Homo sapiens: one gene and its partners. The protein of the gene in region 3 binds, or shares a complex with, the protein of the main gene of each other region. Each region holds a gene or a part of one and is shown on either strand. Other genes may lie near its edges.

Region 1 (3,876 bases), on a different chromosome or scaffold from region 3:
ATATAGACATAGAATAAACATGTATATGTGTGTGCATGTATACACATACATACATATATATATAGTTCTTGAGCTTTGTGTACTGACAGGGCCTAGAAGCAATGACACTGTGGTACTAATGAACACACAATGACCAGACTGTGGTTTCCAAGGAGCAGGTTTCCTTGGAGAAAAGGGTGATTCAGGGATAAGACAGGAAAAGTACAAGATGAGCCTGGAACATTACGTAGTGCCAGAAGAAAAAGTGCTAAAAATTCCTGGGAGGATCAAAAGTATTCAGGAGCCAACTTGAAGGGCCTCCCAATGGCCAAATCTGGAATACTTAGCGCAAGAAAATACATAATTCTAATTCATAATTCTACTAAAAATAAGAATCCAAAAGTCCACACTAAATGGATGTAAATTTCTTTAATAAAATAATAGGAAACAAGGGAATATAATTCCTTACAATCGAATTCCAAACTAATAAATGCAGAATGATAGAATTAGAAAATCATCACAGTAAAAAATGTTTCAGGCAATTATCTTCAAAAGATGCTAAAACAGGCAAAATACATGTAATATGATATTTACATAGTCTCAAAGGATTTCCCTATAAGATACTTATTAAATACACAAGGAAAAATAGCAACTTAATATGGAGAAACCTAGACGGTACCACCCTCAACCAAGTTACCAAAATTTACGTCACCAGTAGTGGGACAAATAGACTTCATGTGACTGCAGATATATGAAGGATACAAATCATTTCTGTCATAGTCATGGAAAAGAAAAGACCACTGAGATGAAAGGAGACTAAGAAGACATGACAGCAAAATGCAACATACGGGCCTAGACTGGATCCTGCACTACATACAGCACACCAGCAGAACAACTGGCAAAATGTGAATGAGGTCTGTAGATTAGGTAATAATATTAATGTGCTGATTTTTGCTGATTGTAGTGTTACACATTTGGAATACGTGGGTGAACAAAATACAGGAATTATCTTTACTATTTTTCCAGCTATTTTGTAAGTGAAATTATTTCAAGTTGAAAAGACATAAAAGCTAACAGACAATTAAAATACATTAACATATAGGAAGTGTGGGGAAAAGAGATCAGATTGTTCCTGTGTCTACGTAGAAAAGGAAGACATAAGAAACTCCATTTTGATCTGTACTAAGAAAAATTGTTCTGCTTTGAGATGCTGTTAATCTGTAAATTTAGCCCCAACTCTGTGCCCCCAGAAACATGTGCTATATTGAATCAAGGTTTAATGGATTTAGGGCTGTGCAGGATGTGCCTTGTTAACAATATGTTTGCAGGCAGTATGCTTGGTAAAAGCCATCGCCATTCTCCATTCTCGATTAACCAGAGACACAATGCACTGCGGAAGGCCGCAGGGACCCCTGCCCAGAAAAGCCTGGGTATTGTCCAGGTTTCCCCCAACTGAGACAGCCTGAGATATGGCCTCGTGGGAAAGGAAAGACCTTACATCCCCCAGCCCGACACCTGTAAAGGGTCTGTGCTGAGGAGGAGTAGTGAAAGAGGGAGGCCTCTTTGCAGTTGAGATAAGATGAAGGCTTCTGTCTCCTGCTCGTCCCTGGGAATGGAATGTCTTAGTGTAAAGTCGACCATTCCCATTCGTTCTATTCTGAGATAGGAGAAAACCGCCCTGTGGCTGGAGGCGAGATATGCTGGCAGCAATACTGCTTTGTTGCTCTCTGCTAGTTAGATATTTGTGTAAAGTGAAACATAAATCTAGCCTATGTGCACATCCAGGCACAGTACCTTTCCTTGAACTTATTCATGATACAGATTCCTTTGCTCACGTTTCCCTGCTGACCTTCTCGCCACCTGTTGCCCTGCTACACTCGCCTCGCCAAGACAGTAAAAATAATGATCAATAAATACTGAAGGAACTCAGAGACCGGCACTGGTGCGGGTCCTCGCATGCTGAGTGTGCCGGTCCCCTGGGCCCACTGTTCTTTCTCTATACTTTGTGTCTTATTTCTTTTCTCATTCTTTCATCTCCACCTGACGAGAAATACCCACAGGTGTGGAGGGGCAGGCCCCCTTCAGGAAGTATGCAGATAAAGCCAAAGTTGCACAAGTGATATGCAAATGACTAAAGTGTGGAAAATAGGATACTACAGCAATGCTTCTAAAACTTTAATGTGTATATGGGTCACTTCTTAAAATGCAGATTGAATCCTTAGGCCTGGAGTGGGGCCTGAGCTCTGCATTTCTAAAAAGCTCCCAAATGAAACCAATGCTACTGATGTGAACACCACATTGAATAGAGGGCTTAATACCATGCTTCTAAGATAGTAACTTCCAAGACAGCAAAGATTTGCTATCCACACACTAAAAATACACAGTTGCTCTAATTGTTGGCTGCTTATGCTAGAATGCTCTATTCACACCTGCCCTGGCTAACTCCCTTTCATGACAGCATTAGTAGTTAAAATGACCAGGATGTTATGTTCCAGCCAGGTGGCCTTTAACAAGGTACTTAACCTCTCTAAGGTTCAGTTTCTTCAACTGTAAAATAATGTGACAACCAAGAGAATGGTCTCAAGTAGCATTTAGTCAATAACTAGAATTTAGACATGCAGTGATTATATCAGAATACCTTAGATGACAATAAAGAATCATACTCTGATAGGCTACAAGTCAACAAGATGAAATAGAAGCAGTATAAAAGGGAAGTTCTGCATTTGGTGTTTTTAAAAAGAAACAACATAGGGAGAACCCAACAGCATGATGAAAATAAGAACTGAAGGATTTTAGTTGACATAATGCTTCCAGCAAGTCAACAATGTGATCCTCTTCCCCACTCCCACCCCCAAAAGTAATATAAACTTAAGTTGAATTAACAGAGGTGTATGACCACATGAAGAAAAGAAAGGACCTCTGGCCCACTGTACTCTGACCACACCTGAAGGCCTGTGTTTAGTTCTTGGCTGAACTGCATAAAGTACAACTGCCAAATATCCAAAGGAGGGAACCTCAACTCATGAGAACTCTGGACACCATGGCACAATGGCAGAGGGTAGTTGAGAAAAATAGATGGAAGAGAGATGTTATAGTGGCACCTACTGGCTATCAATGAAGCAGGCCAAGTGGTAGAAAGTGTCTCTTCCACCAGGTGGAAAGCAGCTAGTAGTGACAGCTGCTCTCAGCTTCAGCCCAGTTGTTGACTTGGGAGAATTAAGATCTATGGTTACTAGATCTTCCAGATTTGAAAGAGTAGCTGGAAATCTGCATTTGTTATATACAACTTTCTGATCTTTAAATGTTGGCAAGTATTAAAAAAACTAAAATCTTCTGCAGACTGAATAAAACACCCAAAAGGGGCTAATTTGCAGTCTCTCTTGAATGTAAATATCTGGAAGGCTGTTGTCCTCAAGAGGGTATAGAATGGTTCTAGCTTCATCCAGGGACAAACAGACTGGGGCTACAAGGAGGTACATTATATCACAATATAAGGAAGAACTTTCTAATATCTGGCTAACAATCGAATCAGCTGTCCCTGACAGAGTAACACGGGCTCAATGGAAACCTCCAGAGTGTAGATGACCATCTCTCGGCAACGTTGTGGGTAAGATTAAACTTGTTGGTGGCTAAGGCTTCCAACACTGAGTCTGTAAATCTACATACATACAATATTCGTTGAAGTCTACTTTTCTTAAAAGTCTGTTCTTTGGATTATTAAATGGATAAAAAGCCAGAAAAGGTGCAAACGGTCCTGCAGGCAACATAAGACGTATGTGCTTCGTGAGTCAATTGTTATTGGACACAGAAAAGTGACTTTGAGAGAAGTTTGAAACATTTTCCTCTCAAACTTTTTTTTTTTTTTAAAGGTTCATTATTGCTTTCTACCTGCTTAAG
Region 2 (4,479 bases), on a different chromosome or scaffold from region 3:
TTGGCAGATCGTCCAGTGACTTATCTGTATAACACTCTGCACTATTATGAAATGCACCTGAGAGACCGCGCATTTCTCAAACGAAAACTCGTCCATGCGATCATTGGCTCTCTGAAGGATAATCGACCGCAGGGCTGGTGTCTAAGTGACACTTACCTGAAATGCGCTATGAATGCACGAGAGGAAAATCCTTGGGTTCCAGATGACACCTACTATTGCAGATTGATTGGCAGACTAGTCGATAATATCCTTTTTATTGTGATTTTAGACTCCCAGAAATAACAGTATTTTGATTTATGAGAATATATTTTTTCTTTTAAAGTAATTTTTTATGTATTTCAAGGTTTTAATTTTTTTTAAGATCACTTCCATTTTCATCTCTGTAAAGATTTGAAATCTTAAATTAACAGCATCATGCCAATTAGGCTGAAATTCTGTTAAAATTTTTATTTTAGAACTTGAGGATAAGCGGTAAAAAAATTATATTTAAAAATAGACTTTATGGAGATTTGTTTCAAAGAAAAAATCTTATTCTTACATACTATATTTTGTAGCACATGCATCTGTGTGCTACTGGAGAACGTAGGATCTTGTTACTTTAAAAAAATTAATGTTTGTAGTAAATAATAAATGATAAAATATATTTTTCTTTATTGAAAAGGTATATTTTAGTGAAAATATACTTGGATGTTTATTTCTTCATTTTGATTTTATATTTTCAGTTATTAGCACTCTATACTTAATGTCTATAACCATACCACTATTTTACTAGGTAAGAAATTCTACATAAATGAGCATGACTTATTTTCCTACACAAAGGAATTTATTTTCTGAAGCAAAAGAATGACTCATTAGAAAATAATTTTCATATTAATGTCTTATAACTATTAAAAGAAATAGGCTCATGAAACCTAGGTAAACCTTGGTTGCATCTGTGGCTATTATATGTCATATTTATAAGAACCCACCTGAAAGACCAACCATTTATACCTGTGGTTAATCAAATGGTTGCTTTTAATACATTTCAATCATGTCAAACTCATTTGTATTTGGTTTGCATTTGCCTCTTAATCTCTCTAAGCGTAGACAAATCACTTCTTGGCAGCTCATAATCAGATAAATTGACAATCAGATGAGATAGTCCAATTGTTATTGCTTTAACTGTGTGCACCGATGGCTGGCAAATCTCCTGGTCCCTTTCCAAACTGTGACTGGAGATTCAATGAGTTTCCCAACCCAGCTGCCCATGCTCTCCATGTTACTTGTGTGGAGCTCATGGCCTTGGCAGTTTCAGGCAAAGAAGTTGGGAATGCCCTTCTAAATGTTGTCCTAAAAAGGTATGTATTCTGGTTCATGCAGTAAGATTTGTTGTTTATTTGTAAATAGAATGGTATTCTATTTCAAACTTTTAAGACAAACCTGTTGCCGCAAGGCTGATGCACATTGGATGATGACTGTTTTCTGGTTCCAGATCTTGTCTTTGTGATATAGGAGTTATGGAATGAGCCCTGGACAGGATCCTAAGATCCGGGTTTGTTCCTACTTCTACTCATTAATAGCAGTTTGACATTTAATATAGGAATAATGTTAACTTGTCACTTAAAACAAGATTCTCTTCATCTTGTTTTCAAGATTTCAAGATTCTTTTAAAAATTAGCATGAAGTATGGGATAATGATTGGGGAGGAAGTATTTTTAAAAAGCCTTCTTGAGTTTTTATGCATATTACATTTTTATTCAATAAAAAATTCCCCATTGTTTTATTGAAATGGATTAGTTGTCGATCCTCTGAATTAGACATATTCTTTAAAAATAAGATCCGTTGTCAGCCATCTAAAATGTTTTTATAAATTCATACTTACATTCTTTTTTGCCGGTTGCAGTCAGCCTTTAGTGCCAAGAGAGAACATTACAGCATGGATGAATGCAATTGGTTTGATCATCACTGCCCTACCAGTGAGTTAATAATTGTGATTTGTACTTAGTGATGAAATACAGCCAGCTGTTCCATGTCAGCAAAAAGAAAAAGATGCATATAGGATGCCCTTGTACGGGACGTCATGCAAATTAATGAAGTATTTTATGTTTTTAAAGTTTTTTCATATTATTACTGCTTTAAAAATCTACAGTGACTAGTTTTTGCTTTTCTGTATTAGATCTAAATATATCTATGTGACTTACGGGTCTCTGCATTTTCTGGTACCACCTTACCTATCCAACTTTAGTTTTTACATAATAGCTTGATCTACTCTTGGCCACTTAACGTGTTGTATATCTACAGCCTTTGTTCCTTCAGATAGTGCTTAAGACATGTTTTAGGTACTTCTGAATGTGAGGGAATAAGACATTTTTCTTATTCCAGAAGCTTCTTCTTTCCATCACCTTCTCTAAAGCCTATTCATTCTTTGCTAGCTTAGAGCCTCCTTTCTCAGTGAATGAAGCCTTCCCTGACTTTTCCAGCTCACATGAAGACTCCTTTCTCTGACCTCCACACATATTTTTTTAAAGTTTATTATTTTTAAATAAGTAATAAAGCTATAGATTTATTGTTTGATAAATTAATTGATTTACTGCATAGTGTATATCAGGTACCTAAATGAGCTGGACAGATACATGTATGGAGCCCCTTAACTCACAGTTACTTCTCCCAGGTTGTTACTGACTTAATTTGACCAGTTACAAAGCCACCCAGCTGTATTGTGCAGAAGCTGGAAAAATAGAAAACTTTAAAGAATGAGAAAACACTATTACTTTAGACTTTGGGGTGGAATGCTGGATAAGTGATATTTTTCACTAGCTTTCCTCCGATTTTAAAGGAGCCATATTGGATTGTTCTTCATGATCGAATTGTGAGTGTCATCAGCAGCCCCAGCTTGACGTCTGAAACAGAGTGGGTTGGCTATCCATTCCGCCTCTTTGATTTCACTGCCTGTCATCAGTCCTACTCTGAGATGAGTTGTAGCTATACGTTAGCTCTTGCACATGCTGTGTGGCACCATTCTAGCATCGGACAACTTTCTCTCATTCCAAAGTAAGTATAATAATTTCTTAAAGAAATTTGACGTAGGCTGGGTGCGGTGGTTCATGCCTGTAATCCCAGCACTTTGGGAGGCCGAGGTGGGCAGATCACAAGGTCAGGCGATTGAGACCATCCTGGCCAACATTGTGAAACCCCATCTCTACTAAAAATACAAAAATTAGCTGGGCATGTGGTGTGTGCCTGTAACCCCAGCTACTCGGGAGGCTAAGGCAGGAGAATCACTTGAACCAGGGAGCTGGAAATTGCAGTGAACCAAGATCGCGCCACTGCACTCCAGCCTGGTGACAGAGTGAGACTCCATCTGAAAAAAAAAAAAAAATTGTATTTCATTTTGTTCTAATCTCATTAACAGATGAGGTATATACTTCATTCATTAGAACAACTTGCGGCTGGGCGCGGTGACTCATGCCTGTAATCCCAGCAATTTGGGAGGCCGAGATGGGTGGATCACAAGGTCAGGAGATTGAGACCATCCTGGCCAACATGGTGAAACCCCGTCTCTACTAAAAATAAAAGAATTAGCCAGGCGTGGTGGTGTGCACCTGTAATCCCAGCTAGTCAGCAGGAGAATCACTTGAACCCAGGAGGCGGAGGTTGCAGTGAGCCAAGATCACGCCACTGCACTCCAGCCCAGGCAACAGTGTGAGACTCCGTCTCAAAAAAATAAATAAATAAAAATAATCAAGTGAAAGTAATAGCCAGTGAGAGATGTGAGATTAATTAGAAATATTATTGTTACCAAATTAAAAGGAACTTTAAAAAATTATATTTTATTGTAATACTTTGTATATACTGTATGAACAAAATTCAAACAATTTAAATAATTTCAAGTCACAGGAGATTTTTATCTTCAAATTTTAGGTTTCTTACTGAAGTACTTCTTCCTATAGTGAAGACCGAATTCCAGTTGCTTTATGTATACCATCTTGTTGGACCATTTTTACAAAGATTTCAGCAAGAGAGAACTCGTTGTATGATAGAGGTAAAATATAATCTGGGTTTCCTGTGACATGATTAAATTCTGAAGTATCTATTTAAGTTTCTTTACCAGTGTTATTGAAACTGCAGGTCACAACCATTAGTAGTGAAACTAGTTTAACAGGATCCAAGAGCAATTTTAGAGGACTTAGTTTGCCAGTAATGAATTTAGGGTGGGATGTATTGAATTGGAGATGCAGAGGAAACGCCCATCATGAAGGTTGAGAAGAGGTTAAGGATGGAGAAGTACATTTGAGATCTTACAGTGCAGAGGAGCTAATTAAAATCATGAGAATGGATGAAGTCAGTCACTTCTAACAAAATGTCGCAAACAAGGAAAGGACCCAGGAGTAGAACCTTAAAGCAAGAGCTACCAAATGGAACTAAGAAAGTATAATCCAAAGGATCCCTAGGAGTGGAGTTATCCCAGACATCGAGAGATGGTGTCTAGAAAGGGGATTG
Region 3 (3,787 bases):
ATTTCCAAAACTTTCTTGCTCAAAGCTCAGATTTACACAATGCCACCTCTAAGAGGCAGGACACTAGCCCAAACTAAAATGTCCCTTATGTCTGTTCTTACTGTCTTCTCCTTTGGCTTGAGAGATGTTTTGATTTGTAAAAGTACTGGCCAATACAACAAAATGGAGACATAAATTATGTCATAACAGAATTTTACATATGTTTCCTTATATTATGTTCATTAATGTATTACATGCCTTAATAATTTCACTCAGTTAAAAAATGATGGTATGATGCTTTAAAGCTGATTCAATCATGATTTTATAAGCTTATCAAGAGTGAAAATAGAAGACTATTAAAAATAGCTAAAAAGGTAATGTGTCATAGTGTTTAATGTTTCTGTAATTGTTGGTAAGGCTTGTATCTAAGTCTGATGCAGAATTCTTAATGGCACTCAAACAGTTCTTTTCTCAGCCACATGGTATCCACTGATGCTATGAGTCTGGAAGAGACTGGCTATGGGTACCACTTCTTGTCTTCAGCTGTGACTGTGCAATATCAGCAAGTGCGCTTTGTATCTTCTCCAGAAGCATGTCTCCTCGATAAACAACATCCTCCAGACATGTAGCAGCTTCATGGTTTTCTTCTTCTAGCTTATACAAGCTAGCAGCCTTTATAAGACACAAATTTTAAAATCTTTAGAGTTTAGAAAGAGAAGCTGTCACAGATGTACTTATTTTTAAATCTGGATGACTTTGCAATCATTGTGATATGTTTTTCAGTAAAGAAATTCTAAAAATCAGACAACTTTTAAGAATTTTCCCCATGTGAATTATTAAAAAGAATGACTTTTCAATTAGAGATCTCTAGATATCTTTAAGTGACTCCCTTACACATTACGTTTAGACACCATTATTCTACTCCAATTGTAGAATGCCACCCTCCTCTCATTCTTCACTAGGAAAAGAGACAAAATTGAGGAAAATAAGAGGTTTCCTTATAATGGAAATTTGAATATTATAACAAAAGGTGCTATGATTTGAATGCATCCCCTCCAAAATTCATACATTAAAATCTAATCCCCAATGTGATGGTATTAAGAGGGAAGGGGCCTTTAAGAGGATATTAAGTCATGAAGGCAGAGATCTCATAGATGGAATTAGTACCCTTAAAATATGGCTTGAGGTTGAAGAGGGAGCTCTTGCTCTTTTGCCCTTCTGCCTTCAGCCATGTGAGGAAACAGGAAGAAGGCCCTCAACATGGCCCTAAACATGGCACCATGTTTAATAAAAATTCATTACTCATGCACAGTGAGTAATAAATGCCTTGATCTTGGACTTCCCAGACTCCAGAACTGTGAGAAAATAAATTTCTGTTCTTTATAAATTACTGTCTCAGGTATGTTGTTATAGCAGCACAAATGGACACAGACAAAAGGTACTAAATCTACCTCCTTTAATTCAAAATTCTCTATTACTGGTAAAATTCTCAAAGGAATAGAGGCTTACCTGTAAAGCAGCTGTAGATTCTTCACTGGGTAAGGAATCTATCAAAACATCAATGTCTTTTGCTGTTCGTGCAATCAGTGCTGCAAAAAGCTGGGCATACTCTAGAGAAAGATACTGCTAGATTAGGATATTAGAAAACCTCAAGTTTTCAGAAACAAATTTTAAGTTAATGAAACCAGAAACTTCATATAGCTTTTTCTGCCCTAAGATTCTAATGATTCGGCCAGGCGTGGTGGCTCACGCCTGTAATCCCAGCACTTTGGGAGGCCAAGGCAGGCGGATCACGAGGTCAGGAGTTTGAGACCAGCCTGACCAACATGGTGAAACCCCATCTCTACTAAAAATACAAAAATTAGCCAGACGTGGTGGCATGAGCCTGTAATCCCAGCTACTCAGGAGGCTGAGGCAGGAGAATTCCTTGAACCCGGGAGGCGAAAGTTGCAGTGAGCCAAGATTGCATCACTGCACTCCAGCCTAGGTGACAGAGCGAGACTCCGTCTCAAAAAAAAAAAGAAGATTCTAATGATTAAAATATACACCAATCCTGTTACACATTTAGCTCAAATTGGGAATTAAGCATAATGTATGTAATTTCATTTATTATGACAATATAGTGGTCACCTGAATAAAGAAATTTATAAATGGGATGCCTTCCTTGTTAAGGTCCCTCACTCAGCTAAATTAATACAAATTCTCCTCTAAAGGAGTAACAATCTATTATCTGACATGAACCAGAATTATGAGATGTTAGGTGAATTGACTGTAAATTTTTTACAACAAACAAAACTTGTAATATTCTCAAACAACAATAATTTTAGAAATAAAATAAGCTGAATTTCTCAAGAAATCTAATTTTAAAGGATTACAAAAAATGTGAGAGTCAAACTAAGAGAAGCTAAGAAAACCTGTTTACCTTCTGTAGGGTTAGCTGGCTGGTCTTTGTTAATTGCTGTCTGAATATTATTGAAAGAGGCAGGAGGACCACATTGCTGCAATACTCCAATGGCATTACAAAACTGATCTGCAAGCTTAGGCCAAAGAAAACATATCAAGGTTAGAAAGGACTTATCAGTTTTAAGGACTTTATTGGTAATGGCAACAACAATAAGTTTCTGTAATGATAATCTCTGAGCAAGGGAATAAAACAGAAAGGAGTGATTGTTGATAAAATAAGCCAGTTATTATTAATGTTGATTAAACGTTTTAATTCTGCAAAGAAACTAAGTTTGGTATCAATCTAGGTAAAGTTAAATTTGATATAAATCTAGTTGAAACAGTTGAAATACAAAATAATCTTTCTTTTCTTGTGATAGTAAAATGATAAGAGAATATTGGCCAATACTTATTGTAAGCCACAAGTAAAGACTTTTTGGGGATAGTGATGGAAAAGAGCAAATTTGACTTGTAAATATCTATGGCACCATGTTTAATAAAAATTTATTTCTCATGCACAAAGTATATGATTCCTTTTCTGAGACTGGAGTAGTTACAAGTGTAAAGAAATAGTGAGGAAGAGGCTGCTCAGAAAAGCACCTTAAGTAAGCAGAAATGTATTTGTTCAAGACTCAATTTGTAAACTCTTGTACTCTAAAAGTATTCCTTAAGTACTTTTAAAGATTGGGAATAGCAATTCCTTACCATCTCCAAATTAAATACACCTATCTTCCCTACCAATTTCTCTCACCTAGTCTTGACCTCTCAAACCTCCTATTTCTAATAAGTATTTCCACTGGGTTTCTCTGCCATTGTTTCAATGACAGAACTCAAAGGCAACTGTTTCCTCTTTTTAATATTTAATTTGTATTGAAAGTCTCCTAGTCAACCAATCTAACTTCAGATTCTTACTTTCCTTTGATCTTCATATTCTGCTAATACTACAAATCTTTCTCTTTTCCTTCTATCACTGTTGCTTAGTTCAACCAATTATCTCACACCAGAATTATTACAATAGTCTTCTTGTTGTTTTCCAGTTCACCAGGTTATTTATTTTAACCTGATCAAAACATTTAAGCTTACTCCACCACTGTCTTCAAGATAAATCTCCAACTCAGGCTGTTTTGAAGCTTTCAATAATCTAAGTCAACTCTACTGACTCGTTTTCCACTACTCCTTCATATTTATCTAACTAGTCATAAAGTCACTTATGACTAAATGGCTTTGCCCAGGTTTTGCTAATTGTAATGGAGCAATAAGTGCTCAGATGCTATACAAACCTAGATCCTGATCCTAGCTCTATTAATCCAAGCAGCATTTTTCATTTTTAAATTGGATACATTCTCCTATTATAGCATTGTTGTAA
Region 4 (4,479 bases), on a different chromosome or scaffold from region 3:
GCTCCTTGAAGCCCAAGTGGCTTGGGACCACCTACAGGTCTCTTGTTCTCCAGGAACAAGAATGCTAGAATGGGCTACTCTCGAGGCTTCAGGACCTGGTTGGAGAGCTTGTTTTAGGACTAGTATATTTATTTCTTCCCCAAGTATGTTTTACTGCCTGTGAAAAGTCCAAAAAGACAATCTTTATATAAAAATGGACTGTGTTGACAGCCTCTTCCCTACCTTGGGCCCTTGATAAATGTTTATTGGCTGAAAATCGGATGAATACTGAATTTTAATGGATCTCAGGTCTTGTCTTTTTTTCCCCCTTTTATGCTCCATGGAGGTTAATGGGCTAGTTGGTGCCATTATTCATCATTTGACCCTCTGGAATTGTAACTAGGATAAGTAACTTATAGTTCAGTGCTAACCAATATGGCTTAGACCATGAGTGTGGGCATTAAGGAGAGAACAGTGAGTTAGACCAGTCGGGTGAGTTGCTAAAGGAACTGGGGCTTGAACAGAAGCTTAGAGCATGGTGGGAGTTTGAGAGAGAGTGTGTAAGAGGCCTTCAGCAGGGGAGGGCAGCAAACGCAATGCCTAGATGAGGGAGTGGTTGAGAATGAGAAAGCCATTTAGGGACCCAGTTCCCCCAGAGGAGAGTGACAGCCTCTGCAAGACTGGACTTTGGGATCCGCTCACTCCTCGAGTGATTTGTGGCCGCCCTCCCTGTTCCAGCCACTGGATTCTGGCCTCCCTCTGCCTCTCTCTCCTGAGCCTGTGTGATGCCATACCTTCTGAAGTCAGCTGGCTGTGTCCCCTGGAAATCAGGCTTTTGGGAATGGTCTCTGGGGTTTCCAGCTCTAGGTGCCCACCCCCCTTCTGGAAACAGTGCATGCTGCCCTCAGGCCCCTCCCTCCCTGTTGTCCTCAGGGGAAGCCTTCCTGTGTGGTTTCGTGTGCCGGAGGGAGTGCCAAAATCGAGGAGTTCAGGGCCAGGTGCTCCTTCTCTCCTGTTTCCCATCATGTTTCTGTACTTCCTTCCCTCTGCCAGCTTCTTGGACTGCCATCGAGCATTCTCTCTTGAAACTTGGAGAGATCCTGGCCAATCTCAGCAACCCGCAGCTCCGGAGTCAGGCCGAGCAGTGTGGCACCCTCATTAGGAGGTACCGGCTCCCTGGGGGATGGTGGAGAAGGGAGAGGGAGGACACGCCCTGGGGTAGGAAGATGTGGCACCCGTGCCATCCTCTCCGCCTTCACCTTTGGCCCCCCAAACACCGTCCCCTGTGTTTGTGACCCCTCAGCATCCCCACGATGCTGTCTGTGCATGCGGAGCAGATGCACAAGACCGGCTTCCCCACTGTCCACGCCGTGATCCTGCTCGAGGGCACCATGAACCTGACAGGCGAGACGCAGTCCCTGGTGGAGCAGCTGACGATGGTGAAGCGCATGCAGGTGGGAGGGGCCGAGTGGCTCTCCCTTCTCCAAGGCAGGCCAGCCTGTTGGGGGCAGGAGGGAGGATTCTTCTGGTTCTCCCTGGGAGAAGTGGGGTTTCTCCTGCTCCATGATGGAAAGTGGGTGCCAGTCGTGCACACTTCTGTCATTGGACCTTACTCCCCTGGTTCTCAGCACATAGCTGAGCAGTGACTCTGCCATGCAGTCTCTGACCCAGCCAAATCCTCAGAGTCCACAGAAGGGTGACGGGGTATGGGCACCCTCTTAGGCCTCATCCTTGGCTCTTCCCACAGCATATCCCCACCCCACTTTTTGTCCTGGAGATCTGGAAAGCTTGCTTCGTGGGGCTCATTGAGTCTCCCGAGGGTACGGAGGAGCTCAAGTGGACAGCTTTCACTTTCCTCAAGGTACTGGGGACGTGGGAGGGGCAGAGCCAGTCTAGGAATGGTTCTTAGCAAGACCAGTGGCACCCTGGACCTTTGCCCTGTGTTCCTCCCTGCGGGCACTGGGCCCAGCCTGCCAGGTATTCCAGTGCAAGTTCCCATTGATCATTTTCTCTGAAAGTGCCAGGGCTATATTTAGCCCATTTGGCAGACTCCGTTGTTTCTTACCACAGAGGTGCAGTTTAGCTTGGTCATCAGACAGATAGGTGCAGGGCAGTAAAGGGAGCCAGGGAAAGGGGCCCCAGTCCTCCTTGAAGCTGGGGATCCACTTTTGCTTATGGCATCTTTTTCTGTTGAGCTAGCGGAGGTGCAGGGTGCTTGTGTCCTGTGCCTAGGCCTGGGGGCATCAGGGGCCTGGGCACCTATTGGCTTTCTCATTTAGCACTAAGTGTGCTCTCACTCCCAGGGTAGGAGTGTTCCTGTCTCTCTTCCTGGAGCAGGGGTTCGGGGGGATGCCTTCAGGGGTAGATGAAAGAGAAAAGAAATGGATCTTCCTGTTTTTCCCCCTGCCTCACCCCCTAGATTCCACAGGTTTTGGTGAAGTTGAAGAAGTACTCTCATGGAGACAAGGTGAGTTGGGGATTGAGATGGAGGCATGGGAGCAGAAATAAGGGCAAAGGGGAGGGTCCTTCAGGCCCCAGCTGGGCAGTGTTCTCATGCCTGGAAGAGAGCCGGATGTGAGTGTACACCTCAGCGTGCACGTGCTTCACAATGTGCATGCTTCAGCATGTGCGTGTGCTTCAGCATGTGCGTGTGCTTCAGTGTGTGCGTGCTTCAGTGTGTGTGTTTCAGCGTGTGTGTGCTTCAGCGTGTACGTGTGCTTCAGCCAGTGTGTGTGCTTCAGCGTCTGCGTGCACCCACAACATACACCCAGGCTCCAGGCAGAAAGCAGCCAGGCAACTCAGGCCGATGCCTCCAGCAGACAAGGTTGCCTGAGATGATCAGGGCCTGGTGGCCCTGGAAACCAGATGGACACTTCTGCCTCTTTCTAGGACTTCACTGAGGATGTCAACTGTGCTTTTGAGTTCCTGCTGAAGCTCACCCCCTTGTTGGACAAAGCTGACCAGCGCTGCAAGTATGAGCTCCCCTGGTCACCCCCGCCCTACTGGAAGGCGTTCTGGGCTCTTCCCCTGATCTCTGTGCCAGAGAAGCCTCAGGGGACTCTGTCTCCTTGTTCACTCCCCTTGGCAGGGGCAGGAAATAGGAGCCCACAGTTGCCAAGTCCCCAGAGCCCCTCTACCGTCCCTCAGGCACTCCAGATTTTCCTCATCCTGAAAGAGGGAGGATGCTGCTCAGGGACCTGCCACTCCCACCCCTCACCATCCTATCCAGGTGCCCAGTTCCCTCAGCATCTTTCTCCCTCACAGCTGTGACTGTACAAACTTCCTGCTCCAAGAATGTGGCAAGCAGGGGCTTCTGTCTGAGGCCAGCGTCAACAACCTTATGGCTAAGCGGTAAGTGTGAACGCACCTGTGCTACCCCAAGAGCCCCTTGACCTCTCTCTTGTTACGGTGGGGCTGCTGCGTGCCTTTCAACCTCCTGTCGAAAGTTTGGGCTGCAAGTGACTGGGACCGTGCCTGGGGGTACAGGGAACAGGAAGGAAAAGAAAGCACAGATGTCTTCAGACCAGAGTTTTACACTCTTAGTCACTGCTCTTTAACTCATACCCATCTTTGTGATAAAAGTAAAAATCCTAGGCTGGAGGCGGGTGGATTACTTGGAGGCCAGGAGTTCAAGACCAGCCTGCCCAACATGGCAAAACCCCATGTCTACTAAAAATACAAAAATCAGCTGGGCGTGGTGGTGTGTGCCTGTAATCTCAGCTACTCTGGAGGCTGAGGCACGAGAATTGCTTGAACCCAGGAGGCGGAGATTGTGGTGAGGCGAAATCATGCCACTGCACCCCAGCCTGGGCGATAGAGTGAGACCTTGTCTCAAAAAAAAAATAAATAAATAAATAAAAATCCTGAATCTTCCTTTAATCTTAAATGTGCTTTCAGAGCATTTAAGACTAATGATAGGCCGGCTGCGGTGGCTCACACCTGTAATCCCAGCATTTGGGAGGCCAAGGCGGGTGGATCACGAGGTCAGGAGTTTGAGACCAGCCTGGCCAACGTGGTGAAACCCCATCTCTACTAAAAATACAAAAATTAATCAGGCGCGATGGTATGCACCTGTAATTCCAGCTACTCAGGAGGCTGAGGCAGGAGAATCACTTGAACCCGGAAAGCAGAGGTTGTACTGAGCTGAGATCGCGCCACTGCATTCCAGCCTGGGTGACAGAGCGAGACTCTGTCTCAAAAAAAAAAAAGACTAATGATAAATTGCCAGGTGTGCTGGCTCACCTGTAATCCCAGGACTTTGGGAAGCCAAGGTGGGTGGATCACCTGAGGTCAGGAGTTTGAGACCAGTAGAACATGGTGAAACCCCGTCTCTACTAAAAATACAAAAAAGTAGCCAGGCGTGGTGGTGAGCGCCCAGCTACTCTGGAGGCAGAGGCTGCAGTGAGCCGAGATCGTGCCACTGTACTCCAGCCTGGGCAACAGAGTGAGACCTGTCTCAAAAAAAAAGACTAATGCTAAATCAGTGATTGCAACATTGAC
Region 5 (4,907 bases), on a different chromosome or scaffold from region 3:
CGTGCAGGGCCAGTTTCACACCATTGTGCAGCCAGGACAGGGCCACAATGGGGTCCCCCTCCACTAGGCTGCCCACTGAGCTCTCCCAGCTATTAGCCAGGTGGTCCGCCATGCTCCAGCACTTGATCTGCCCGTCGGCATCTGCTGACAGGAGCCGGGAGCCTGAGGGCAAGAAGCCATCATTGCGAACCTTCCAGGGATGGGCAGAGCACTGCGTTGCAGGACGGCACAGCGCCTGGGGGAAGCCAGCCCAGTGGAGAGGTCTCGGCCCAGGTAGGGCACAGCAGGTGGCACAAGGCGCACTCCAGAGATGCCCTGAGACACCCTGAACAAGAATGATTCGGGCCACTATGGAAAGAGCAGCAGGTGCAAAGCTGCAGACCAGGGGCTCTAGACCCAGCGCCGGACTCCAGACTGACCGGAGAAACACAGGGCCCCCCTGCTCCGGGATCCGGGTCGCCACCCCTGGCCACGTGGGACCAGCGCCTCACCTGACTGGTCCCACTCCAGGCAGGTGATGGCCTCGTGGTGCTCTGAGGGGATCGAGTGCAGGTCCCAGGGGTGCTCCGTGTCCAGGATGTGGATCATGCGGGTCAGGTCTGTGGGGACGGGGCATGGTCAGCACGGCCTGGCACCACAGCCTGCAGACGATGACGATGACTCCAGGCAGGCTCCAGGTAAGCCGGTGTGTGTCCCACCCCAGGAAGGTCACAGAACTGCTGTCAGCCGAGTCGACAGCTCAGGGAACAGGCTGTCCCCCCGCAGGAACAGAGCAGGCCTGTGAGGCGCCACAACTGTGTCTTTAAAACCAGATTAGAAGAAAATGACTCCGAAATGTGAACAGTGGGAGCCTCTCCACAGCAGATAATAGGTGGCTTTTTTGCACCCCGATTTGATTCCAATTTTCTGTGGTTTTCTAGTTTTCTCTAATGACCACGTATTATGAGTGCCTATTACTCAAACAATGGAGAGAAGACGGGCACAGCCACCACGCACCTTTCAAAAACCAGTGACACACACCGTCTAGAAAACTGGGGCACGTGTCTCCAACAAGCCTCCGTCAACCAACGCTCCAGCCCGATTCGATCCCGCACACGGGGCGATCTCATGTCTCCTGGCACCAGGTTTGGGGGGCACTGAATCCACCCTCTGTACCCCCAGGAGGCTGAGGCTCTCACACAAGTTACAGAGGAGGGCCAGGGTGAGTGAGAGGTGGCCTGAGAGACCGAGTCCCTTCAAGGCAGTGGGCCGGGCACCTGGGGAACAGGGCGGGACACCATGCGGCCGGGAGGGGAAGCAGGTGGGAGGGGGACGCACCCTGGTCATCGCTGCGCAGGTCCATGGTGAAGGCGATGAGATTTCGGCAGGACCAGGCGCAGGCCAGGGGCACCGATGGGCAGTGGGTGCTCTTGGACCATTTCTCCCACTCACAGACGTAGGCCAAGTCCATCATCCCACCTGCCGCTGGCCGCCGCAAATCACACATGAGGGCAGTCACCAGCTCCTGCGGGAGGGAGGTGTGGTGGGACGTCTATGTTGGCTGAGCACCCAGGGCATGTGGAGTGCCAGGCCAGAAGTGGGAAAACAATGGAGGCCCGTGGTAGAGGGAACAGCCGATGCAAAGGCCCGGAGGCCAGACAGAGCCTGGGGCTGGGGCCGAGGGGGAACATGGAGAGGTCAGGGCCAGTCCTGGGCCTGTGGGCTTCTACTCTCAGTAAGGTGGGAGCCCGGGAGGGCTGGGACCTATTTGGGTTTCACCAGGACCCCTCTGGCTGTCTAGGGAACAGACCATGGGGGCCAAGGGCACAGCCGGGAGACGCAGCGGAGGGTCTGCGCTGGCCCAGGTGAGTGATGATGGGGGCAGCAAGTGGACACTAGCTCTCTCCCGAAGGAAGAGCCCGCAGACAGGCAAGCGGTGGGGCGGCTCCCTGTAGCCGAGGCGGGGCTGAGTGACAGGGAACACCTGTGGCCGAGGCGGGGCTGAGTGACAGGGAACACCTGTGGCCGAGGCGGGGGCTGAGTGTGACGGGGAACACCTGTGGCCGAGGCGGGGCTGAGTGTGACGGGGAACACCTGTGGCCGAGGCGGGGCTGACTGACAGGGAACACCTGTGGCCGAGGCGGGGGCTGAGTGTGACGGGGAACACCTGTGGCCGAGGCGGGGCTGAGTGTGACGGGGAACACCTGTGGCCGAGGCGGGGCTGAGTGTGACGGGGAACACCTGTGGCCGAGGCGGGGGCTGAGTGTGACGGGGAACACCTGTGGCCGAGGCGGGGCTGAGTGTGATGGGGAACACCTGTGGCCGAGCCGGGGGCTGAGTGTGACGGGGAACACCTGTGGCCGAGGCGGGGCTGAGTGTGACGGGGAACACCTGTGGCCGAGGCGGGGCTGAGTGTGTTGGGGAACACCTGTGGCCGAGGCGGGGGCTGAGTGTCACAGGGAACAGAGGGGGCACCTCCTCGAGGCTTTCTAAGCGCCTGGCATCCAGACGGGCTGTTTCGCTTCGCAAAGGCAAAAGCCCAGGGAGCCTGGAATCACCCGCAACCAGGTTCTCCTCAAACCCTAACCCCGGCTCCCTACTTCTTCAGGGCCTGCCCCAGACCCCCAAGGCTCCGCCACAAGCCTCTAAAAGTCTTTCAGCCCCACCCCTGACCCCCTTTGCTTCCCACACTTCATTTCACCCCTTGAGCCCACGGCCTCACCCTAAATTCTCAGGCTTCACCGTAGGGGTCCCATGTACTCTCCAGGTCCAGCCTCCAACGCCCTTAGCTCTCCAGGCCCAACCCCTAAAACTCCCCAGTCCCCAGACTCCACCCCGGGGACCCCACGTACTCTCCAGGCCCTTCCCCTATTGCCCCCAAATACGAGGCTTCATCCCAGGGACCCCATAGCCTCTTCAGGCCCCGCCCCTATAACCCCCAATCTCCAGGGTCCATCCCAGGGACCCCCTACCCTCTCCAGACCCCTATAACTCCGCAGTCCCCAGTCTCCACCCTAGGGACCCTATTCCCTCTCCAGGCCCCGCACCGATAACCCCGCAGTCTCCAGGCCCTGCCTCTACAGCCCCCCAGTCCCCAGGCTCCACCCCGGCGACCCCAAACCCACTCCAGGCCCCGCCCCCGAAGTCCCACCAAGCGCCTTCAGCCTCGCCCCAAACTCTCCTTAGGCCCCGCCCCGAACCCAGCCCCGCGGGCCTCAGGCCTCCCCCAGGTTTCCGCCGCAAACCCTGAGCCCCGAGCCCCGCGCCCCGCGCCCCGCGCCCCGCGCCCCGCGCCCCGCGCCCCGCGCCCCGCGCCCCAGGCCGCCTACCCAGCAGCCTTTGCTCCCGGCCACGCCCCCGACCCCGCAGGCCCCGCCACGGCTGCGCCGCGTTCCCTCGGGTCCGTGGACACGGTCAGGGGTCCGTCCGCCCTCGCCGGGCCCCCGCAGCCCCGCACTCACCTGGTCGGCCCGTGCGCCAAGCTCAGCGGGCGTCCGCGGTGCGATCTTCCCTAGCGCCTCGGGTCTGGCGCCGCCATCTTCCTCGGTAACAACCAGTCGCCTGAGGCGTGGGGCCGCCTCCCAAAGACTTCTGGGAGGGCGGTGCGGCTCAGGCTCTGCCCCGCCTCCGGGGCTATTTGCATACGACCATTTCCAGTAATTCCCAGCAGCCACCGTAGCTATATTTGGTAGAACAACGAGCACTTTCTCAACTCCAGTCAATAACTACGTTAGTTGCATTACACATTGGGCTAATATAAATAGAGGTTAAATCTCTAGGTCATTTAAGAGAAGTCGGCCTATGTGTACAGACATTTGTTCCAGGGGCTTTAAATAGCTGGTGGTGGAACTCAATATTCGTGCTCGCTTCGGCAGCACATATACTAAAATTGGAACGATACAGAGAAGATTAGCATGGCCCCTGCGCAAGGATGACACGCAAATTCGTGAAGCGTTCCATATTTTTTTTTTTTTTTCCATTTTCCCTCCCAGAAACGGAATCTTGCTCTGTTGCCCAGGCTGGAATGCAATGGCGCGATCTTAGCTTGTTGCAACCTCCGCCTCCCGGGTTGAAGCGATTCTCCTGCCTCAGCCTCCCGAGTAGCTGGGATTATAAACATGCGCCACCACGCCCGGCTAATTTTTGTATTTTGGTAGAGACGGGGTTTCGCCATGTTGGCCAGGGTGGTCTCTATCTACTGACCTCCTGATCCGCCCGCCTCGGCCTCCCAGAGTACTGGGATTACAGGTGTGAGCCACCGCGCCCGGCCTTTCTTCCATTTTCTAATGTCCAAGAGTGGGGAAACTGTAAGCGAAGTCACCGACCCCGTTGAGTATTCCTACTTCCAACCCTATTCCCACCTCCTCCTCCAAAAGCCAGTTTAATGCAATGGATGTGGTGCTCTTCTATTTTTATTTTTATTTTTTTTGAGACAGGGTCTCGCTCTGTGGCCCAGGCTGGAGTGCAGTAGCGCGATCTCAGCTCACTGCAACCTCCGCCTTCCAGGCTCAAGCGATTCTCCTGCCTCAGCCTCCCGAGTAGCTGGGACTACAGGCGCGCACCACCATGCCCAACAAATTCTTGTATTTTTAGTAGAGACGGAGTTTCACCATGTTGGCCAGGATGGTCTCAGTCTCTTGACCTGGTGATCTGCCTGCCTCAGCCTCCCAAAGTGCTGGGATTACAGGCGTGAGCCACCGCGCCCAGCCTGTTTTTTCAAAATTTTAATAGCGATGGGGTCTCACTATGTTGCCCAGGCTGATTTCAAACTCCAGGCCTCAAGCCCTCCTTCCACCCCGGCCTCCCAAAGTGCTGGGATTATAGGCGTGAGCCACCGCGGCCTCACTGCATGATTTTTGCAAGAATTCTGCAAATATAAAACTGTTCTAAAATTACAGGTTAACAATGGCCCAAATATCAGAGTGTTT
Region 6 (4,479 bases), about 89 Mb from region 3:
AGACTCACAGAAACCCTGACTTCTACGGACTTTTGGGAGCATCTGCTTCTGGCAGACATGGCCTCCCTCACTTCTGCACTGTGATTGTCTAGACCAGAGAGGTAACTCTCTTTGTTTTTTCACCAGGCTTCGCTGCATCACCACATTTCAGTAGCACAGACAGACGAACTTCTGCCTGCCAGGAATTCTCAGCGGGTTCCACACCCTCTTGACTCCAAAACCACGTCGGATGTTTTAAGGTAGATACCAACCTAGGCATCATAGCAGTGCAATTTGAAACAATATTCCTTTACTGTTGTCTTTCCAAGGTGTTTTAATCTAAGTGTGGTATTCATAGAAGCTGCCGTTTGTGCAGTGATACAGTATCTGATGAGTCAGTGAGAGCTGCAGTCCCTCATAGCTGCATGGGACAGGCGGTGTAATACATTGGATTCAGTTAGGCAGTGATAGGCATTTATAGTTGCCTTTGCTTCCTGTTCAGAGCAGGCACTTCATGGTGATGAAGAGAGGTCAGATCTTGGGGGTGGATAGTTAGAAGACAGTGTCTGGAACTCTTAAAGCACCTCACATTGAAAACACTTTTTATGCTTCCTGAGATAGATTATGTATTTTTGTTTGTTTATTCGAGATGGAGTCTCGCTCTGTCACCCAGGCTGGAGTGCAGAGGCGTGATCTCAGCTCACTGCAAACTCCGCCTCCTGGGTTCATGCCATTCTCCTGCCTCAGCCTCCCAAGTAGCTGGGACTACAGGCACCCGCCAGAATGCCCGGCTAATTTTTTGTATTTTTAGTAGAGACGGGATTTCACCGTGTTAGCCAGGATGATCTCGATCTGACCTCATGATCTGCCTGCCTCAGCCTCCCAGAGTGCTGAGATTACAGGCATGAGCCACCGATTATGTGTTTTTTTAAAAATGGACTAGAACATAAATGACATAGTTGAGAAGTGCATTCCAGAAGTGTGTATTAATCAAGCCACAGGCATTCTTCATCTACCTTGAGAAAATATACAGGCCTTTTCTAATGTTTTCTAACTCTTAAATGGTTAGGAAATGATAGGAAACTATATATTATAGATTAATGTATAATTATAGTTATGGATAAAAATAAAGAACCTGATCAACATAAATTTGGCTTCCAGGCCCCCTAGAGCAGGGGTCCCCAACCCCCGTCCATGCCTTGTTAGGAACCAGGCCCCACAGCATGCGGTAAGTAGCAAGTGAGCGAGCATTACAGCCTGTGCTCCGCCTCCTGTCAGGCAATGACATTAGATTCTCATAGGGGCACAAACCCTATTGTGAACCGCACATGCAAGGGATCTAGGTTGTGTACTCTTTATGAGACTCCTAATGATTTAAGGTGGAACAGTTTCATCCTGAAACCATCCCCCACCACGTGGAAAAATTGTCTTCCACGAAACTGGTCCCTGGTGCCAAAAAAGGTTGGAGACTGCTGCCCTAGAGGAACACTGTCCAATAGAAATACAATGTGAACCTCAAATCTAATTAAAATTTTTCTGTTAGCCACATTAAAATAGTAAAAAGAAACTGGTTAATTTTAGTAATATATTTTATTTAACTCAATATACTCAAAATGTTATTTCAACATGTAACAATATAAAAATATTCATGAAATATTTTACATACTTTTCTTTTTTTCGTTTTCTTTTTCTTTTTTTTTTGGAGACGGAGTCCTGCTCTGTCACCCAGGCTGGAGTGCAGTGGCATGATCTCACTGCAACCTCCGCCCACAGGTTCAAGCAATTCTCCTGCCTCAGCCTCCCAAGTAGCTGGGATTACAGGCATGCACCACCACGCCTGACTAATTTTTGTATTTTTAATAGAGATGGGGTTTCACCATGTTGGCCACCTGGTCTTGAACTCCTGACCTCAGGTGATCCACCCCCACCTCGGCCTCCCAAAGTTGCTGGGATTCCAGGCGTGAGCCACTGCACCTGGCCCCTAAGTGTTTGGGCTCCAGTGCCTACTTTACCTGCAGTCCACGCAAGTTCCTACTGGCCTCACTGGCGGAGCTCAATGGCCATGTGTGGCTGCTGGCTACTGTACTGGATAGTCCATATCTAGAAGGAAGGAGGAACATGAGACAAAGGATGAGGGAAAGAGCCTGGGGCAAGTTAAGGAATGCCTTTGAGACCTCCTTCCTGCTAAGATCTGGAATGTATTAGAATCTGAGAACCAGCCTTCCCTCTTGAGGCTCACGCCCCTGCTCTGTGTGTTCTCTTTGGCAGGTTTGTTTTGGAGCAGTACAACGCTCTGTCCTGGCTCACGTGCAATCCGGCCACCCAGGACCGTACTTCCTGCCTTCCCGTCCACTTTGTGGTGCTCACTCAGTTGTACAATGCCATCATGAATATACTTTAATTGGAAAAGCACTTGTTCTCTCTGGCTCAGTTCCTTCTCCCTGCAACCTCAGTCCAAGGAACCTGCTACACTCTGCAAATAACCCACATCCTTTTCTTCAGACCACTCTCCACAGTCCTGCACTGTGATTCCTTCTCAGCAGGCACATGTCAATTCTGCAGTGTTCATTACCAGAGTGACTCCTTGACACTTCTCTCATGGACCTGGAAACTTCCATAAGTGGTGACTTTCAGCCAGTGCGGTGGTGTGTGTAGCCCCAACCACTGGTCCCCAGGAAGTGGTGGTGGTTGATGGCTTTTCAGCGGGAAACAGAAGAGACAGTGTCCTTTTGCACAAGAGTCTGTGTTTTCAGCCTCTGTATACAATTGAGGGCAGTCTAGCCCTTTGGATGAAATCCTCTTAGTTACTGGTGTATGGCCTGTGGGTTACCTGAACTCCATAATCTGGGACTTTTTAAAAATAAGAACCAGCTCAAGTACATGGTTTCATACTGGGGTTTCTGTCTCCCTAGTGTTCCCATCCAGATTAGCATGAGTGCTTTGGTTGACTTCAAACCTGTGTGTCAATGCAGAAGGTCTGGAGACAGCTTCATTTTGTTTATTTATTTTAATTTGTTTTGTCATATGGTTTTTGTGACTTTATTTTTTTAATTCACAAGGACCAGGTACAGTAGCTGAAACCCAATTCAGATCCACCATAGGATTCTTTGACTACATACCTCTGTCCTAGAAGCCGGAAAAGGAGTAAAAACACATTGGGGAGATCATGCCTAAAAGTAATATATTCAAAACCACCCAGCAGTAGGTTTTGTTAACAACAAACTGGATTTTAAAAGTTCTGCCATGTTAAGTGGCCAGCATTTCATGAAGGATAACATTTTTATACAGAAGGCAGTCAAGCTCAACTCAGAGCCATGGAGGCAAGTACCTTAATTAGTTTTATATAGTCACAACGGAAATATATTTTCTAGTGAATTCTTATTGGAAGCCAGGTCTCTCCTCTCATTAGATCAAAAGGGACTTATGTACATACAACAATTGAAAGTGTTTGCTCATGAAATCAGTTATAAATATGGTGAATTTTTTCTGGACCATAGGAATATTATTTCAAAGAAATATTACAACTTAACCATTAAATTAGTACTTGAAGTTGAGCCTTTGTGGTGGGACTTTTTAAAAAAATGCCTTTTTAAAGCATTAATGGCTAATTGAAGTATTTTATGACTCCTCATTCCTGGCCCAGAGGGTTGTCTTTGAAACCCTGTTTCTAACCCTTGTGTTGTGTGTTTCTGTCTGAGGACAGTGGGTGTGTACTGGCCTCCCGGGAGCCACTGTGACCAGGCCTTTGAGCTCTTGTCATCTGTGGAGAGAATCATGCAAATTTTAAAAGTTCTTCCAAGAGACTTCCATGTCCTGGTTATTAACAAAAAAGGAAAAATGTAATAATTGATATGATTTTGTAAAAGTATTTTTCTTGAAATAATCTAAAGTTTAAAACATTATATTAAAAAAAAAGTTGTGTGGTGGGAATGTGAAAGCAGAGAAATAACTTGTAAATGGATAATTTTGTTCTCTGTACCACCAGTTGAAGGGGGGGTTGACTTTCGCAATGTATAGGATAAAAAATCTGATATATCAAACCATTTGTATCTAATGTGTACAGTGTAAAATTGACTTTAAAAATATTGCAGTGCTATTTTTTCTTAATCAGAAAGGAAAATTCTCAAGGCCTTTTGAAGAGCATAAGAAGATGAAGATTGTAAACTTGTATAAAATTATCTTGGTGAGAAGACAAATTGTAAAGTAGATATTTGTAATCTTTTACCACTTTGGGGTTGCTTTTTTCCCGGAATTCATCAGAACTTTGAATTTTTTTTTTAAATGGGCTGTTTTTAATGCAGGGGCTTTTCTTCCCTAGAAACCCAATTCTAAGCAGAAAAAGAAAAAAAACACAAAAAATAAAAAACCCCTACAAAAAAACTTTAAAAAAAATGGCAGCAAAGGGTAGTTTTCATCTGGTGTCTTTTATTTAAGTTTTTTAAGTTAAGAAAAGCTGGTGACATATTTATACGTTTTTGTGCAAAAATAAATGAATGGCAA
Region 7 (4,479 bases), on a different chromosome or scaffold from region 3:
CTGGCCAGGCTCCCCGTCTCAAGTCTTCTTTTTTTTTTGAGACAGAGTCTCACTCTGTTGCCCAGGCTGGAGTGCAATGATGCGATCTCGGCTCACTGCAACCTCCACCTCTCAGGTTCAAGTGATTCTCTTGCCTCAGCCCCCCAAGTAGCTGGGATTACAGGCACATGCCACCACACCCAGATAATTTTTGTATTTTTAGTAGAGACGGGATTTCACCATGTTGACCAGGCTGGTCTCGAACTCCTGATCTTAGGTGATCTGCCTGCCTGGGCCTCCCAAAGTACTGGGATTACAGGCATGAGCCACCGTGCCTGGCCTGAAGTCTTCTTCTTGCACCTTCCAGTACACATCCTATCCATTCATTCCAAGGAACCTTGCAACATACCCAACTCCTCCTATCACTCTTCTGATCAAAAGAGCCCTTTCTGGGACTGCGTCTCAATTCTTCGGCTGAGCATTCAAGGCCATCTCTCAGCCTGCCCCCTCCTAGCCTAGCCCCAGTGACTTCCCCAGCACAGATTTTACACTCCATCCAGGCCCTTCTCCCCAGGCACCATCCTCATTCTGGTCCCCATGTCTTTGTTCACGTTACATCCTCTACCTGGAATGCCCTTTCTTTTCCTCTTCTCCACAAATCCCAATCACAGCTATTCTTCAGAGGCCAACTCAAGTCTGACCTCCTTCATGAAACATTCTCTGATGAGTCAGGCCCACAGATATTACCACGTACTTTTTCTCAATCCACATTTTACCTCATAGCATACAACTGCATACCTGATTATATCTTTGCTCAGAGTGTTCTCTCAATATTCTTCTATAAGTCTCATCTCCCCAGCTATAGTAAAGATTCTTTGTAGTGAGGAACTATGTATCGTGGGGGTTTTTTTTGCTATCTTTCTTCACCTCACCCAGTCCTGGTATAGTGCTGGCCACACAATGGGCAGTTAGCCCACTCCCCAGTGTTCTTAATCCTAAGCTTCAGAGTCTCTATACATGGTTACAAGGCCTCAACTAAGGCTTGACTAACGTTAACCATGGTGGGAGGATTCATTCATTTGTCCATCCTGGTATTTAACCTGGTATTCAAAGCCGGTACTGGCTTTACGACTCCTTATCATGTAGTTCATCTATGAACTCCAGATATTTTTTTCTTTTTCTTTTCTTTCTTCTTTTTTTTTTGAGACAGGGTCTCACTCTGTCACCACTGGAGTGCTGTGGCACAATCTCGGCTCATTGTGCGATTACAGCTCACTGCAGCCTCAAACTCCCAAGCTCAAGCAATCTTCCCACCTCAGCCTCCTGAGTAGCTGGGACTACAGGCATGCACCAACACGCCTGTCTAATTAAAAAAAAATTTTTTTTTGGCCAGGTGTGGTGGCTCAGTTCAAGACCAGCCTGGGCAACATGGCGAAACCCCATCTCAACTAAAAATCCAAAAAATTAGCTGGGCGTGGTGGTGTGTGCCTGTAGTTCTAGCTACTTGGGAGGCTGAGGTAGGAGGATCACCTGAGCCTCAGAGGTCGAGGCTGCAGTGAGCCATGATCATGCCACGACACTCCAGCCTGGGCAAATGGAGTGCGACTCTGTTTCAAAAAAATATGTATTTTTTTTGTAGAGATGGGATCTCCCTATGTTGCCCAGGCTGGCCTCGAATTCCTGGAATCAACTGATTCTCCCACCTTGGGCCCCCAAGTGCTGGGACTACCAGTGTGAGCTACCACACCCAGCCCAGATTTTTCCTTGAGTCAGATAAACAATTTCCCCTCTCTGGGCCTCAAAGAACTGTTAAGGAAGTAGTCATGAAACTATTGGTCTCCAGGGTCCCTTCCAGCTCGAGACTTCTGTGGTTATGGGCTATGTGGCCAGATAAGTATTCTTGATGTCTCCGAAAGTTCTGACCAGTCCCACCACTTTCAGGCACAGGCTTTCCCAAGTCAAATGCTCCCTTATACCTCTGCATCTCTTCCTAGCTCACCACTACTTTGGGTACCTTTGAGTGGAGGTCAGTCCATGTCCATAGGTGGGGGCCTGCTGGTGCACATAGCCACTGGGCCGCTGTTGCAGGTGGCGGGTAGGATCTACAAGAGTAGGATTGGTAGAAGGGTGGGTGCTCTGGTAAGGCTGGCTGGAGTAGCTGGGGGGCACCATGGTACCTGCAGGGCCTGTGTGTTGCTGCAATCCCACATGAGAAACATAAGGAGTATAGCCCTGGAGGGAAGAAGGAGAGAGGGAATCAGGGCCGAGAGTATGCAGAGCAGCTTGCCTCATCCCCCTAGTCTCACAATCCCAGGCTCTTACCTGGGAAGTCTGCAAACCGTAGGAAGAGCTGGGAGTCATCTGATGGACAGATGACTGTCCCAACATGCCCTGACTCTGCTAAAGGGAGAAAAGAGAACAACTCAAACTCAGGAAATGCTTGCTGCCATCTCATCTCTTGTGTCTCCCACCCTGAGTGTCCTTGTGAAGATCCCAAGTGTCTCCTCCGTCCTGTGACCCTCAAAAGCCCCTCTCCCTGACAGCCCTCCCTACTGCCCCTCTCACTATCTTTGCCTGGAGCTGTTGGCGAAGGCGCTGTCCTTGGGGCACCGCAGGTTGCTGCTGCCGGTACACAGAGGTCTTATAAGAGGAGGGTTCTAAACCCATGACGCCAGTCATGGTTGTGGGCAGCACTCCAGGGTAAGTTGGTCGGGTGGGCAGCTTCTGCATTGGTAAGCGCACAGGACGGTATGGGTCCACACGAGGGCCACCTGAAAAGGAGAGTGGGCTGACCTCTAGGCTCCTCATCCCTCTGTCTCTTGCTCAGTGTCCTTGACATCCATAGCTCCTCAGGGGAATGGCATCATCCTTTGGGCAGGGGGAGTGTACAGGTAGGTCCCTCCAGCATTCCTAGTGGCTGGCACTCACCTGCAGGTAGTGGCTGGTTCTGGGTGTACAGGCCTATGGAGCCTTGCCTGTAGTTAAGGTGTGTTATAGAACCAGGGTTTGGGTGGTGCAGGAGGTCCGGAGGCACTGTCACACCATAAGGGCCGCTCCGACCCGGGCCCATTCCATAGTCCTGTGTGAGTGGCAGAGGAAGAGGGTGAGTGGGTTGTAGCTGAATGGGGTCGGGGAGCTGGGGGAGAATGAGGTAAAGAGGAGCTGAATTCGTATATGGTTAATTTTTATTATGATTCTAATGGCACCCCTTCCTTATGCGCCCCCACCCCTCCCACAAACCAGAAACCGGAGCGTCATGAAGTGAGAGGCTGTGGGAGAACTGTCACGGGGGAGGCGCTCACCTCTGTCTTGGTAGCTGGCTGGCTGCGTTTCTTGCCCTTGGTGGACTTCTTCTTGCGTTCCTCAGTACTGGGTGGAGCAGCCCCCGGTTTGTCAGTTTTGGGGGGCTCTGGAGCCTTTTTCTCAGGCTCTAGCAGGGTAGGAGCAGGCGGCTCCTCATCTTCTGGGGGCAGTGGCAGTGGCTCCAGGTAATAGGCGCGGGGCCGGGGCCTCAGGTGTGTGTGGTAGAGCAGCAACCGCTGCTGCTCCTCTCCTCGAGCCACTCGCCGGTCCACTCGGACTGTTCCAAACCAGCCCCAAGAGAGTGGTGCTGACGGCTTCAACCCCTCAAAAAGATCCCAGGGCGAGATCTTCTGTTTGGTGGAAACCTGTAGACCCTGCTCCAGAAAATGAAAAACAATAAGCTGTTGGGACTTAGAAAACAGAAGACTGCAAGCATTTGTAGGAATGGGTAGAAAGAAAGTCATAGGCAGATTCAGGAGAGATGGTAAGAAGCAGACAGACAGACATGGATACACATATACATGCGGAAGAGAGTTATGCGGGGAGAGAGTGAAGGGTGGGGCACAGGGAGAGGTGTGGAGGCACAAGATGAAGCCAGCCCAGACCAGGAGAGGAGATGAACTAACGGGGCGGGGGGCGTGTGGGGAGAGAAGATCGGGAGAGAAAGGGGTTGGGGAGAAAGCCAGAGAGGGAGCGGGGAGGGAGAGGGATTGACATTCAGAGGAAGACAGAAAAAGGAAGGCAGAGAAAGAGAGAGAGGAAGGCAGGGAGAGACTCTGCCTTTAGGCAGGCCGAGAAAGAGTCAGAGAGAGAAAGAAACAGGAAGAGAGAGACAAAAAGGTGGAGAGACAAAGAAAGGCAAACGAGTCAGACAGGGAGAGAGACAGAGACGGAGGAAAAGAGACAGATGGACTAGGAAGACAGATGAAGAGAATGTATATATGAAGGAGTTAGACTTTGGGTTTTAAACTATACACAATAATTATGGTTACTCAACAAATACCGCAACTGACAGAGAGGGAAAAGATAAAAGTGTGCAGAGATGGGTGGGTGTAGGGAAACACAGAAATAAAAGAGATACAGGCTGTCGGCCAGATAGATGGGTGGGGTAGGACATGGGGCAGGTGGAGCAGAGGAAAGAGGAGGGTAGGGTATTGAAAAATGGGTGGTATGTTAAAAGGTGAGGGCAGGGTGAAG

What was found.
Region 1: MED21 (region 3) and MED31 share a complex: the UniProt entries of both Homo sapiens proteins name them as parts of the mediator complex.
Region 2: MED21 (region 3) and MED23 share a complex: the UniProt entries of both Homo sapiens proteins name them as parts of the mediator complex.
Region 4: MED21 (region 3) and MED24 share a complex: the UniProt entries of both Homo sapiens proteins name them as parts of the mediator complex.
Region 5: MED21 (region 3) and MED16 share a complex: the UniProt entries of both Homo sapiens proteins name them as parts of the mediator complex.
Region 6: MED21 (region 3) and MED13L share a complex: the UniProt entries of both Homo sapiens proteins name them as parts of the mediator complex.
Region 7: MED21 (region 3) and MED12 share a complex: the UniProt entries of both Homo sapiens proteins name them as parts of the mediator complex.

The regions. Positions count from the first base shown.
Region 1 is NC_000017.11:6,645,298-6,649,173, forward strand, and holds part of MED31 (mediator of RNA polymerase II transcription subunit 31), read right to left. Parts: intron 1-3,876. UniProt on the Homo sapiens protein: Component of the Mediator complex, a coactivator involved in the regulated transcription of nearly all RNA polymerase II-dependent genes.
Region 2 is NC_000006.12:131,589,864-131,594,342, reverse strand, and holds part of MED23 (mediator of RNA polymerase II transcription subunit 23), read left to right. Parts: intron 1-7; coding exon 8-244; intron 245-1,171; coding exon 1,172-1,337; intron 1,338-1,882; coding exon 1,883-1,955; intron 1,956-2,815; coding exon 2,816-3,030; intron 3,031-3,900; coding exon 3,901-4,021; intron 4,022-4,479. UniProt on the Homo sapiens protein: Required for transcriptional activation subsequent to the assembly of the pre-initiation complex. Component of the Mediator complex, a coactivator involved in the regulated transcription of nearly all RNA polymerase II-dependent genes.
Region 3 is NC_000012.12:27,025,149-27,028,935, reverse strand, and holds part of MED21 (mediator of RNA polymerase II transcription subunit 21), read right to left. Parts: intron 2,517-3,787; coding exon 2,402-2,516; intron 1,590-2,401; coding exon 1,489-1,589; intron 652-1,488; coding exon 475-651; 3' UTR 1-474. UniProt on the Homo sapiens protein: Component of the Mediator complex, a coactivator involved in the regulated transcription of nearly all RNA polymerase II-dependent genes.
Region 4 is NC_000017.11:40,030,010-40,034,488, reverse strand, and holds part of MED24 (mediator of RNA polymerase II transcription subunit 24), read left to right. Parts: intron 1-1,032; coding exon 1,033-1,144; intron 1,145-1,282; coding exon 1,283-1,433; intron 1,434-1,726; coding exon 1,727-1,840; intron 1,841-2,398; coding exon 2,399-2,446; intron 2,447-2,868; coding exon 2,869-2,951; intron 2,952-3,243; coding exon 3,244-3,330; intron 3,331-4,479. UniProt on the Homo sapiens protein: Component of the Mediator complex, a coactivator involved in the regulated transcription of nearly all RNA polymerase II-dependent genes.
Region 5 is NC_000019.10:889,646-894,552, forward strand, and holds the start of MED16 (mediator of RNA polymerase II transcription subunit 16), read right to left. Parts: upstream 3,543-4,907; 5' UTR 3,441-3,542; intron 1,505-3,440; 5' UTR 1,487-1,504; coding exon 1,318-1,486; intron 600-1,317; coding exon 492-599; intron 163-491; coding exon 1-162. UniProt on the Homo sapiens protein: Component of the Mediator complex, a coactivator involved in the regulated transcription of nearly all RNA polymerase II-dependent genes.
Region 6 is NC_000012.12:115,959,167-115,963,645, reverse strand, and holds part of MED13L (mediator of RNA polymerase II transcription subunit 13-like), read left to right. Parts: intron 1-126; coding exon 127-239; intron 240-2,247; coding exon 2,248-2,380; 3' UTR 2,381-4,479. UniProt on the Homo sapiens protein: Component of the Mediator complex, a coactivator involved in the regulated transcription of nearly all RNA polymerase II-dependent genes.
Region 7 is NC_000023.11:71,135,458-71,139,936, reverse strand, and holds part of MED12 (mediator of RNA polymerase II transcription subunit 12), read right to left. Parts: intron 3,657-4,479; coding exon 3,282-3,656; intron 3,059-3,281; coding exon 2,908-3,058; intron 2,751-2,907; coding exon 2,554-2,750; coding exon of another isoform or gene 2,545-2,553; intron 2,380-2,544; coding exon 2,302-2,379; coding exon of another isoform or gene 2,212-2,301; coding exon 1,994-2,211; intron 1-1,993. UniProt on the Homo sapiens protein: Component of the Mediator complex, a coactivator involved in the regulated transcription of nearly all RNA polymerase II-dependent genes.